2 separate regions of the Homo sapiens genome follow, and region 2 is linked to region 1. Evidence: fine-mapped expression QTL. Tissue or cell type: fibroblasts. Region 1 holds a variant in brackets; the other region holds the start of a gene. All regions are shown on one strand. Distances are between the middles of the regions.

Evidence for each region. PIP is the estimated chance that this variant, and not a neighbour inherited with it, causes the effect.
Region 2: CFAP251 starts here. The variant in region 1 is fine-mapped to the expression of CFAP251 in fibroblasts (GTEx, PIP above 0.99).

Annotation. Positions count from the first base shown.
Region 1 is chr12:121,939,141-121,944,360 of GRCh38, forward strand. It overlaps CFAP251 (cilia and flagella associated protein 251), which reads left to right. Exons shown (of 22, transcript NM_144668.6): 6 at 3,394-3,505; 7 at 3,755-3,835. Among named protein-coding and RNA genes, the nearest start is that of CFAP251, 23 kb to the left of the region's middle. The variant G/A (reference allele first, on the strand shown) is at 2,145.
Region 2 is chr12:121,916,087-121,921,306 of GRCh38, forward strand. CFAP251 (cilia and flagella associated protein 251) reads left to right here and starts at 2,506. Exons shown (of 22, transcript NM_144668.6): 1 at 2,506-2,609; 2 at 5,200-5,220. The coding sequence starts at 5,220. It overlaps PSMD9 (proteasome 26S subunit, non-ATPase 9), which reads left to right. Exons shown (of 6, transcript NM_002813.7): 6 at 198-2,211. The coding sequence ends at 225. RefSeq lists a silencer at 2,635-2,784.

The sequences.
Region 1 (5,220 bases):
GTAGCTTGTCTCCACAACATTGTTGGTGTGATGTTTTCCCAGACAAATCTGATTGTGTTGCCACCCTGATTAAAACCCTTTAGAGACTGTCCATTGTCAAATCAACTTATGCTACAGGGGACACGCACCCTGCATTAGGGCCCTGCAGACACTTCCCCCAGAAAGTGAAATGCCCGCTGCCTGCACCCATAGCCGTCTGTGGCTGCTACACGCTCTCAGCTGCAAGTACTGGCACATCCAACTTAACCACAAGGGAAGGGTATTATCTCATGCAGTAGAAGCCTGCAGTCGGCCGGCAGAAGGGTCAGAGTCCTTCAGGTGTGTCTCATCTCTGAAGCCTTTGCTGACCAACACCTTCACCAGACAGAGCTGCCCCGTTATGATGTGGAGCCACTGTTTTTTCCTTATTTGTGAAACTCTCTCTCTACTAGACATGAAGCAACTTGAGGGCAGTGATTTTTTTTAAAAAATTTCACAGTAAAGCATATCTGTGGTTAATAATGCAAATGCTATGTTAATATGAATTTTATGATATCCCAAGTGATTACTTTGGGACCCAGAAAAGATTATTCAGAGGCTGTTTTGGTTTTAGGATTAATATTCATTTTATTAGTGATAAATTAAAAACCGTAGTTCTTCCTCCAGTTTTTCGCTCAGCTTAAAAATCTTACTCTGTTTATAAATCTAGCATATTTTTGCAATCACCTTTGAAGAGGCTTTGATTAATGTTTGGCCCCACTTACAAATTTGGTTATTAACTCCTTTTAAACATGTAAAACTGCATTTCAATATTTAAGAGATTTAGTTTCTTTACGTTTTTTAGTAGTCTGATTAACAAACAAATCCTTCATGGTACTTAAGTAATTACTGCAAATCTAGTAAATTAGACATAAATATGGTAAATCTTAAGTTTCCTTAAGTGTTCTAATATTGTTTATAAACCTATTACGATTTTAATTTAAAATCACAAGTCTAAATCAACTATATATTTTAAATTAGCATCACAAATCTAATCTGTTAGCAACTCTGGTATGTCAAATTCACTTAAACATTACAAATTCCTAAAAAATGAACAAATTCTCTTATCACAAATATGTTAATAATGCAGGTCTGACTGACTTCATCTTCTCTATATTCAATTCCAAGTATCTCCAGGGATGAGATACATTTTCTCACTAAGGACTTCACTGTGTTATTTCCAATCATTTTGGAATTGCCTTCCCAGGTGAATTTCTGGGGCTACTTCTCAGTAGGATGAAGTTTCTCCAGTGACAGAGAACCAGAGAAGTCCTCAGCTGGGACACAGACTTGATACCAGCCAGTTGGGACCCTAGCGTGACATACAGAGATGCTGAGGCCTGTTTATCTTCACTGTATCTAGGACTCCATAAACAAACAAACAAACAAACAAAAAAGAACCATGTGACCCGCATTCCTGGTTTAAGTCTTGCTACCACCTACTTTTCATTCCAGTGGGAATCAGCAGACCTCCCCCAACCCAACCATTACAGCTTCCATCTTCGCTTCCACTGCTTCTGTGCTTTGGCTGTCTTAGATACTTGCATGTCATCTAATTCTGGGTATTTCAAGGCTGTGTTGGAATCATACAGCTCTAAGGTCTTGTCAGTAACACAGTATGGAAATGTAAGAGCAAAAAATAAAAGTTCCTCCTCACCCAAACCCCATCTTCAGAGGAACCATTGCTTACAGTTTGGAGTCTATTCCTCCAGAGTTTTTTCAATACATACACACGCACACACACACACATGATTAGGATGATGCGATTGTTTTGCAGTGTGCTTTTTTCACAAATTTTGGTCACTTTCCCAATCTACCTCATTCTTTTTGAAGGCAGCAAAGTTTTTATTTTTATTTCTATTTTTTATTTTTATGTCTTTATTTTTTTTTGAGATGGAGTTTCACTTTTGTTCCCCGGCTGGAGTGCAATGGTGTAATCTTGGCTCACTGCAAACTCCGCCTCCTGGGTTCAAGTGATTCTCCTACCTCAGCTTCCCGAGTAGCTGGGATTATAGGTGCCTACCACCACACCTGGCTAATTTTTTGTATTTTTAGTAGAGACGGGGTTTCACCATGTTGGCCAGGCTGGTCTCGAACTCCTGACCTCAGGTGATCCACCTGCCTTG[G/A]CCTCCCAAAGTGCTGGAATTACAGGTGTGAGCCACCATGCTGGCCTTTTTTTTTTTTTTTTTTTTTGAGGCAAGATCTTGCTTTATCACCCAGGCTGGAGTGCGGTGGCGTGATCTTGGCTCACTGCAGCCTCAACCTCCTGGACTCAAGCGATACTCCCACCTCAGCCTCCCAAGTAGTTGGGCCCACAGGCACGTGCCACCACACCTGGCTAATTTTTCTATTTTTGGTAGAGATAGGGTTTTGCCATGTTGTCCAGGCTGATCTTGAACTCCTTAGCTCAAGCAATCCACCCTCCTCAGCCTCCCAAAGTGCTGGGATTACCAGTATGCAGCACTGTGCCCAGCCTAGTTTCTTATCATATGGTTATGCTATAATATCTTTTTAAATAATTCATGTATGGTATATTAAGGGACATTTGTGTTGTTTGATTTTTGCTATTAGAGCAGTACCATGATGACTGTGAATTTTCATTGACCTTTGTTTACTTTTTCCATGATTTCCCTAGGAAAAAGTCGTAAGGGTGGAGTTACTGGGCTGTAGGGTGTATGCATTGAAGGTTTTGATAGATACAGCCAAACTGCTTCTAGAAAAGTGCTGCTCCTTTGCATTCCCACCTGTGTAGGAGAGTGCCCGATTCCCTGAGAGCTGGGACGTTGTCCTAGTCATCTTTTCATATTTACATCCTTCCTGCCAGGCACAACCTGGCACAGAATCAGTGCCTGGTACCTAGTGAATGAGAACCTAGAGCTTGTGAAGAGGGCAAACAGCAGGCCCATTGCCTTGAGTTAGGCTTGACTATTATTGTTGTTGAGGTTAAATTCGCATAACATAAAACTGACCATTTTAAAGCATACGGTTCGGTGACATTTAATACATTTACACTCTTATGCAACCATCATCTCTATCCAGTTCCAAAACATTTTCACCGCCCCAGAAGGACACCCTGCATCCATTATCTGTCTCTGTGGGTTTGCCTATTCCGGCCGTTTCATATGAGTGGACTCATACACCACACGCCTTTCGTGCCTGGCTTCTTTCACTCAGCATCGCTTCCGACGCTCATCCATGTCATAGCATGCATCAGTGCTTCATTCCCTTTTATGACTCAGAAAGATTCCACTGTATGGATAGACCACATTTTGTTCTGTTTTGGAGAGGTTTGGGCTGAGCTCAGACCTGCCCTGGGACTCTCTGGGAAGCCAGGGAGACCTCAGCAAGTGTCGCCCCCCTTGTCCTGTTTTGCAGTATTCCTGTGCACACAATATTTGACAGCTGCCCTGAAGGGAATGGCATCATGGCCATGGCCATGACCCACGACGCCAAGTATCTGGCAACCATCTCAGATGCTGAAGTCCAGGTAAAGGCCCTGGCCCTTTGGGTCAGCATCAGCGAGCTGGCCGACCTGTGCAGCGTGTCCCCATGGGCAGCTCTGTTCAGGCTGGGCTGTGTGATGTCTGTGATATTCTCAAAAGACCAGACTCCACAGCACAGAGTCTGGGCCTCTGTCCTTAGTTACTTGAAGTTTTGGGGTCACCACAAGAGGTGTAAGTTACTTCAGCAGACTTCACAGACCTTCTCATGCCCCTCTCTCTACTGTCACCTACAGAAGGTATGCATCTGGAAGTGGACTTTGGCAGTGGAAACGCCAGCATGCACTCTCGAACTCCCCACAGAGTACGGTGTTCAGGTGAGTTCAGTTGGAGCCTGTAAACATCAACCTGAAGTTATACAGGTGCAAGGCCAGGCTGGGCGTGGTGGCTCACACCTGTAATCCCAGAACTTTGGGAGGCTGAGGTAGGTTATCACTTGAGGTCAGGAGTTCAAGGCCAGCCTGGCCAACACAGTGAAACCCTGTCTCTACTAAAAATACAAAAATTCCCTGGGTGTGGTGGCACATGCCTATAGTCCCAGCTACTTGGAAGACTGAGGCATGAGAATTTCTTGAACCTGGGAGGCAGAGGTTGCAGTGAGCCGAGACTGCGCCACTGCACTCCAGCCTCGGTGACAAAGTGAGACTCTGTCTCAAAAAAACAAAAACAAAGTTCTACAAATGCCAGGCCAAAACCTACTTTTTGTTTCAGTAGAGTTGTGTTATGTTGCAGTAGAGTGTTTTTGTTTGTTTGTTTTGTTTTTGTTTTTGTTTTGAGACAGAGTTTCGCTCTTGTTGCCCAGGCTGGAGTCTGGAGTGCAATGGCACGATCTCGGCTCAACACAACCTCTGCCTCCCAGGTTCAAGCGATTCTCCTGCCTCAGCCTCCCGAGTAGCTGGGATTACAGGCACGTGCCACCACGCCTGGCTAATTTTGTATTTTTTTTAGTAGAGACGGGTTTTCTCCATGTTGGTCAGGCTGGTCTTGAACTCCCGACCTCAGGTGATCTCCCCACCTTGTCCTCCCAAAATGTTGGGATTACAGGCATGAGCCACTGCACCTGGCCTCAGTAGAGCTTTTAAAACCCTTTCATTTCCTGATCTTGTTTTACTTGAATATAATAGCTAATATTTTTGAAGCACTTATGTTCCAGAGTCTGCTAAATTCTTTACTTACATTATCTCACATAATCCATGCAAACATGCTAGCAAAAAAGATATTAATATCTGTGGAATACTACCATTAATTATTAAATAATTTGTCTAAAATCACCCACCTGGCAGTCTTTCTTATTCTAGAAGTGTGCTCTTAACTACTTCAAACCTTGTAAAACTAACTCTGAGGAGTATAGGGAAGTTATCATTATTGCTCCCAACTTGCATGAGGTGACTTGCCAAGGACACCCAGAAAGTTTCTATCAGGTCTCCTTATTTCCTGAGTCACTGCTCCCTGCTTTTGTGACTTGTCTCATTCATCCTTGCATGCTTCATTTGTCATACATTTATTGAGTACCTGTTCTGTGCCAGGCACTGTGGTAAGTACATGCCTGACTTGCAGGATCTAAAATCCAAACAGAGGGTTTGGGTGACTAGACTCAGCCAGGGAAATATGGTTATGCAGCCATATGTCCATCTTCTTTCCTTTCCCCCCAACATTCCTCTTGCTCCTAAAAAATTTTTTCTTTCTCCTTAAGGTTGTGTTA
Region 2 (5,220 bases), 23 kb before region 1:
GTAGGAACGAGACTACAGCTCTAGAAGCAGAGGGAGCCCCAGAGTCTCTCCTGGGAGTCTCTCCAGTTCATTCATGCACTAGGCATTTGCTTTAAAAGAATGAAAGAACATTGGTGAAAAGGTCAGAAGGGCTCAGCCTCTGACCTTCCTGAAGGGAGCCTCCAAACTTACGCCATTCCTTTTCTTCTTTCTTCCAGCTGCAACATTATTCCTCTGCAAAGATGATTGTCCCTGGGGAACAGTAACAGGAAAGCATCTTCCCTTGCCCTGGACTTGGGTCTAGGGATTTCCAACTTGTCTTCTCTCCCTGAAGCATAAGGATCTGGAAGAGGCTTGTAACCTGAACTTCTGTGTGGTGGCAGTACTGTGGCCCACCAGTGTAATCTCCCTGGATTAAGGCATTCTTAAAAACTTAGGCTTGGCCTCTTTCACAAATTAGGCCACGGCCCTAAATAGGAATTCCCTGGATTGTGGGCAAGTGGGCGGAAGTTATTCTGGCAGGTACTGGTGTGATTATTATTATTATTTTTAATAAAGAGTTTTACAGTGCTGATATGACCCTGTTGTCACCCCAGCTGAATTTCTTATGACCCTCCCAAACCAAAGCTCAGATGGGGTCAGAAGAGCTTCATAGAAAGTTGGGCAAAACAGGCTAGCAATTGCAAAGTCAGGCTTTGACCAACATATTTCTTTGCACTGAGGCCTTGCTGCTGTGGATACGGAAATGGTTAAGTACTGTGCTTCCTCAGCAGCTGGGCTGTCAGGGCCATAGTAGCTCCCTTTGGAGAACAGGGAAAGCCTGGAGGCTTCCCAGGTGGCCCAGCGTGGTGTCCTGTCAGCTTCCTCTTTAGGAACCCACCAGAGGGCAGCAAGCTCCTTTCACTTCGCTAGTAAGAACCCCTCCGTTTTTGTGTGTTTTTGTTTTTGTTTTCTGGAGACAAGGTCTTGCTTTGTCACCCAGGCTGGAGTGCAGTGTCGTGATCAAGGTTCACTGAAGCCTTGACGCTGTGGGCACTGCCTCAGCCGCCCAAGTATCTGGGACCACAGGCGTGCACCACCATGCATAGCTAATTTATTTTTTGTAGAGACAGGGTCTCCCTGTGTTGACCAGGTTGGTCTCGAACTCCTGGGCTCAAGCAGTCCTCCTGCCTTGGCCTCCTAAAGTGCTGGGATCACAGGCGTGAGCCACTGCGCCCAGCCCACTGCTAGTTTGACTTTTTATAATTGAACCTCCTGGCTATGCCCTGAGATCAGCGCTATTTTGTAAACCGCTGAGGTATGGATAGGAACGAGTAGATCAGACCTCTTGAAAATGCTTATTCTTCCTCCCTTTTATTTTTTGTCTCTTTTAAGATGGTAAAATGGTTCTCAGGGATTCCTGCCAATACTTTGAATTATTTTTTCCTCTCCATGGTATCAGTGTTCATTTCCCCAGTTCTTGCACACCGCTTTCTGTTTTGGCAGTTCTGCCAGGCAAGCCCTGTGTTCCTTGGGACTGGTTTTGCTGTGGTTGGATACAGATACCAGCTTGCCTTGATGGGATTGGTATTGCTGTGTGCTTCCAGCCACAGGTTCTCACACTCAATTCCAAAGCCTTCCTATTGGGCGAATTCCCTCAAACTCTATTTGACCTGACAGCCATACGTATTCCCCTCTGGTAGCCACAGACATGCTGTGTTTACCAATGTTTGCTGTTTAAATTGCATGTTCTAATTCCACGTATTTTCCAGTCTCTTTTATAAAGTCTCAGACTATAATAAACACAGCTTGCCCAGTTTATCCTTTCTTTTTTATTTTAAGATGTATGCATATTAATCAATTTACCATCACTGGGGCATGGCAGTGTGGGCGGGGAGAATTATTCACATTCTCCTAAAATGACAGCAGCAGAGAGCCTTCTGCCTCAGTGGCTCTGGCTGGTTTCCTGCAGGGGTCCCAGTGGAAACCCGTGTGGCCACCTGTTGCCGTCTTCCATGAGATGTTAGTGGAGAGCCACTTTGACGTGGAATGATCCTAATAGATATAGCCAGACCGGTTTTGCGGAAACGCTTTGTGCTGAGAACCGCAAGCTGGTGCACCCTGTGTCATATCTGCCCCCAGCCAGCTGGAATTGTCTGCAACACGCGGTGCCCGGTGAGGAGGCAGGCAGGACGGTTGTGTGCTGCATCCATGAGACCTGGAAATTCAGTTTGCTTTTGGAAAAGAGCATTGTATCCGAGTTCATACTTCTCCACCCCATCTTGCCAAGGTTGCGGAAAGTAAAAATTGGCAGTATTGGCCGCTGCAGCTTCTTAGGGGACGGGACCATGTGAAAAGGTGGGATCGTGCGAGCGGAGGAAGGACAGAAAAGCGAGGAAAGTCTATGCCGCCAGCGACCGGCAGGAGGCACGTCGGGCACGCTCGTCACCGTTTCCTGGCACGTGACCACCGCCCTGCCCTGTCGCTTTAGGGCCTGTCGCTTCCGGCGGTGGCGGTTGCCATGGGGACGGAGCTTGGGTGGCAACCAGAACTAGGGAGCTGGTGGAGAAGGTGGCGGCCGCTGGAAGGAGGCCCGGGAGGTGGCTGAGGGGTCCAGGCGGCGGGACGACTCTGGCCTTTTGAAGACCGGGGTGGGTGCTCTCTGTAAGTCCGGGGCGGAGGCCACGCGGCCCTGGCGAGGGGGCCCCCGACCTGGCGGGGTCTGGTGCCCCTTGGGGGGCGCTCACCCGACCTGGCCCTTGTGGGGCCTGGGGCGGCCCCAGGGAGACCTGAGTTGGAGGCAGAGGCCGCACCTGGGCTTTAATCCCCTCGCAGAGCCACGCACCTGGCACCCCTGCCCCAAACCCCTGCGGCTCGAACCCGGCTGTCCAGACGCGCCGGCGAAGTTGGGCTCAGTCAAAAGAGGCTCGGTGGTGAGAGCCCTAGACTTGATTCAGAGCAGTGATTTTTCAGCTGGAGAAACTAAGTGCCAGAGAAATCTCGTTCTTACTAGCGGTGTCATCTTGAATAAGTCACTTCACCTCTCAGAGCCTCAAACTCATTTATCCATTCATTATTTATTTATTATTATTATTATTATTTTTTTTTTACCAGAGATGAATTTGAGGAGCTGATACATTTAGTGCTGAGAAAGAAATTAAGAAATAGAAATACCTTTTCTACTCTGTACTCTCTGGGACTTTATTTTCAAAGTGTTGAGTTCTCTTATTCTAATGTCACTGAAAATGTAGGGATTTTTTTTGTTCGGGGTCCAACTCTTTAGGGATAAAGTATCCATCCTTATTGTTTTCCTAGTTCAAACTCTTGTTTGTTGTAAGGAATAAATGGAGAATATGCCAGAAGGCTTTCAAACTGTTCATTTCTTTGCACATTAGGGTTGCTTTTCTCTCAAATAATAACAACTGCTACCATTTTTTCAAGCTGTATGTGCCAGAATTGTGATGAGCATTTTATATATGTTATCACTTCTCTACAACAACCCTAGAATTTAGGATTATTCTTTTCATTTTGCCCATGAGAAAATGCAGACTCTGAGGGGTAAAGTGACTTGCCCAAGGTCACAGAGCAAGTACGTGGTGGAAATGGGATTCAATGCTAGGACAAGCTGACAGCAAGGCCCTTGCTTTTAACCACTAGGCTACCCTGCTTCTTCTCGTATTCCTGTTTCTAGAATTGTTGCTAATATGTGGGTTATGCATTTTGCTGCCTGTGGGAATATAAATATATTTTAAATGAGTAAAAAGGCTACAAGGTGTTTATTCCCAGAAAGTTGACAGGCCCTGGATCAGTATTTTTAAGATCTGGGCCACAAATACATATACTTTAAGATTTCCCAGCTGCGCGTGATGGCTCACGCCTGTAATCCCAGCACTTTGGGAAGCCAAGGCGGGCGGATCACTTGAGGTCAGGAGTTTAAGACCAGACTGGCCAAAATGGTGAAACCCTGCCTCCATTGAAAAAATACAAAAATTAGCTGGGTGTGGTGGCAGACGCCTGTAATCCCAGCTGCTCGGGAGGCTGAGGCAGGAGAATAGCTTGAACCCTGGAGGCAGTAATTGCAGTGAGCCAAGATCGTGCCACTGCACTCCAGCCTGGGCAACAAGAACAAAACTCTGTCTCAAGAGAAAAAAAAAAAAAAGGTTTCCCACAAATGTGACTTTTTTTTTTTTTTTTTTTTTTTGAGAGAGGGTCTCGCTCTGTTGCCCAGGCTGGACTGCAGTGGCATGATCTTGGCTCGCTGCAACCTCCGCCTCCCAGATTCAAGCTATTCTCCTGCCTCGGCCTTCTGAGTAGCTCAGATTACAGGCACCACCACCACACCAGGCTTTTTGTATTTTTTTTTTTTTTTTGAGACGGAGTCTCGCTGTGTTGCCCAGGCTGGAGTGCAGTGGCACGATCTCGGCTCACTGCAAGCTCCGCCTCCCGGGTTCACACCATTCTCCTGCCTCAGCCTCCCGAGTAGCTGGGACTACAGGCGCCCACCGCCAAGCCCGGCTAATTTTTTGTATTTTTAGTAGAGACGGGGTTTCACCGTGTTAGCCAGGATGGTCTCGATCTCCTGACCTCGTGATCCACCCGCGTCAGCCTCCCAAAGTGCTGGGATTACAGGCGTGAGCCACCACGCCCGGCCAACTTTTTGTATTTTTAGTAGAGATGGGGTTTCACCATGTTGGCCAGGCTGGTCTCAAACTCCTGACCTCAACTGATCCTCCCGCCTCAGCCTCCCAAAGTGTTGGGATTACAGGCGTGAGCCACTGTGCCTGGCCAGAAATATGACATTCTTTTTTTGTTTTTATTTTTGAGACAGAACTTTGCTCTTGTTACCCAGGCTGGAGTGCAATGGTATGATCTTGGCTCACTGCAACCTCTGCCTCCCAGGTTCAAGCGATTCTCCTGCCTCAGCCTCCCAAGTAGCTGGGATTACAGGCGCCTGCCACCACACCCAGCTAATTTTTGTATTTTTAGTAGAAACGGGGTTTCATCATGTTGGCCAGGCTGGTCTCAAACTCCTGACCTCAGGTGATCCATCTGCATTGGCCTCCCATAGTGCTGGGATTACAGGCATGAGCCACCGTGCCTGGTCAGAAACATGACATTCTTTTTATTCCTATGGAAAGGGAACAGAGCCATTTATGCACATTTCATCAGTAGGTTAGTGCACTAGGAGATGGAAATGGGAAGCTGAGGGCCAGCTGGTTATTATGGTCAAAATCTCTCTAGAGGAAACTCTACAGAGAAGAA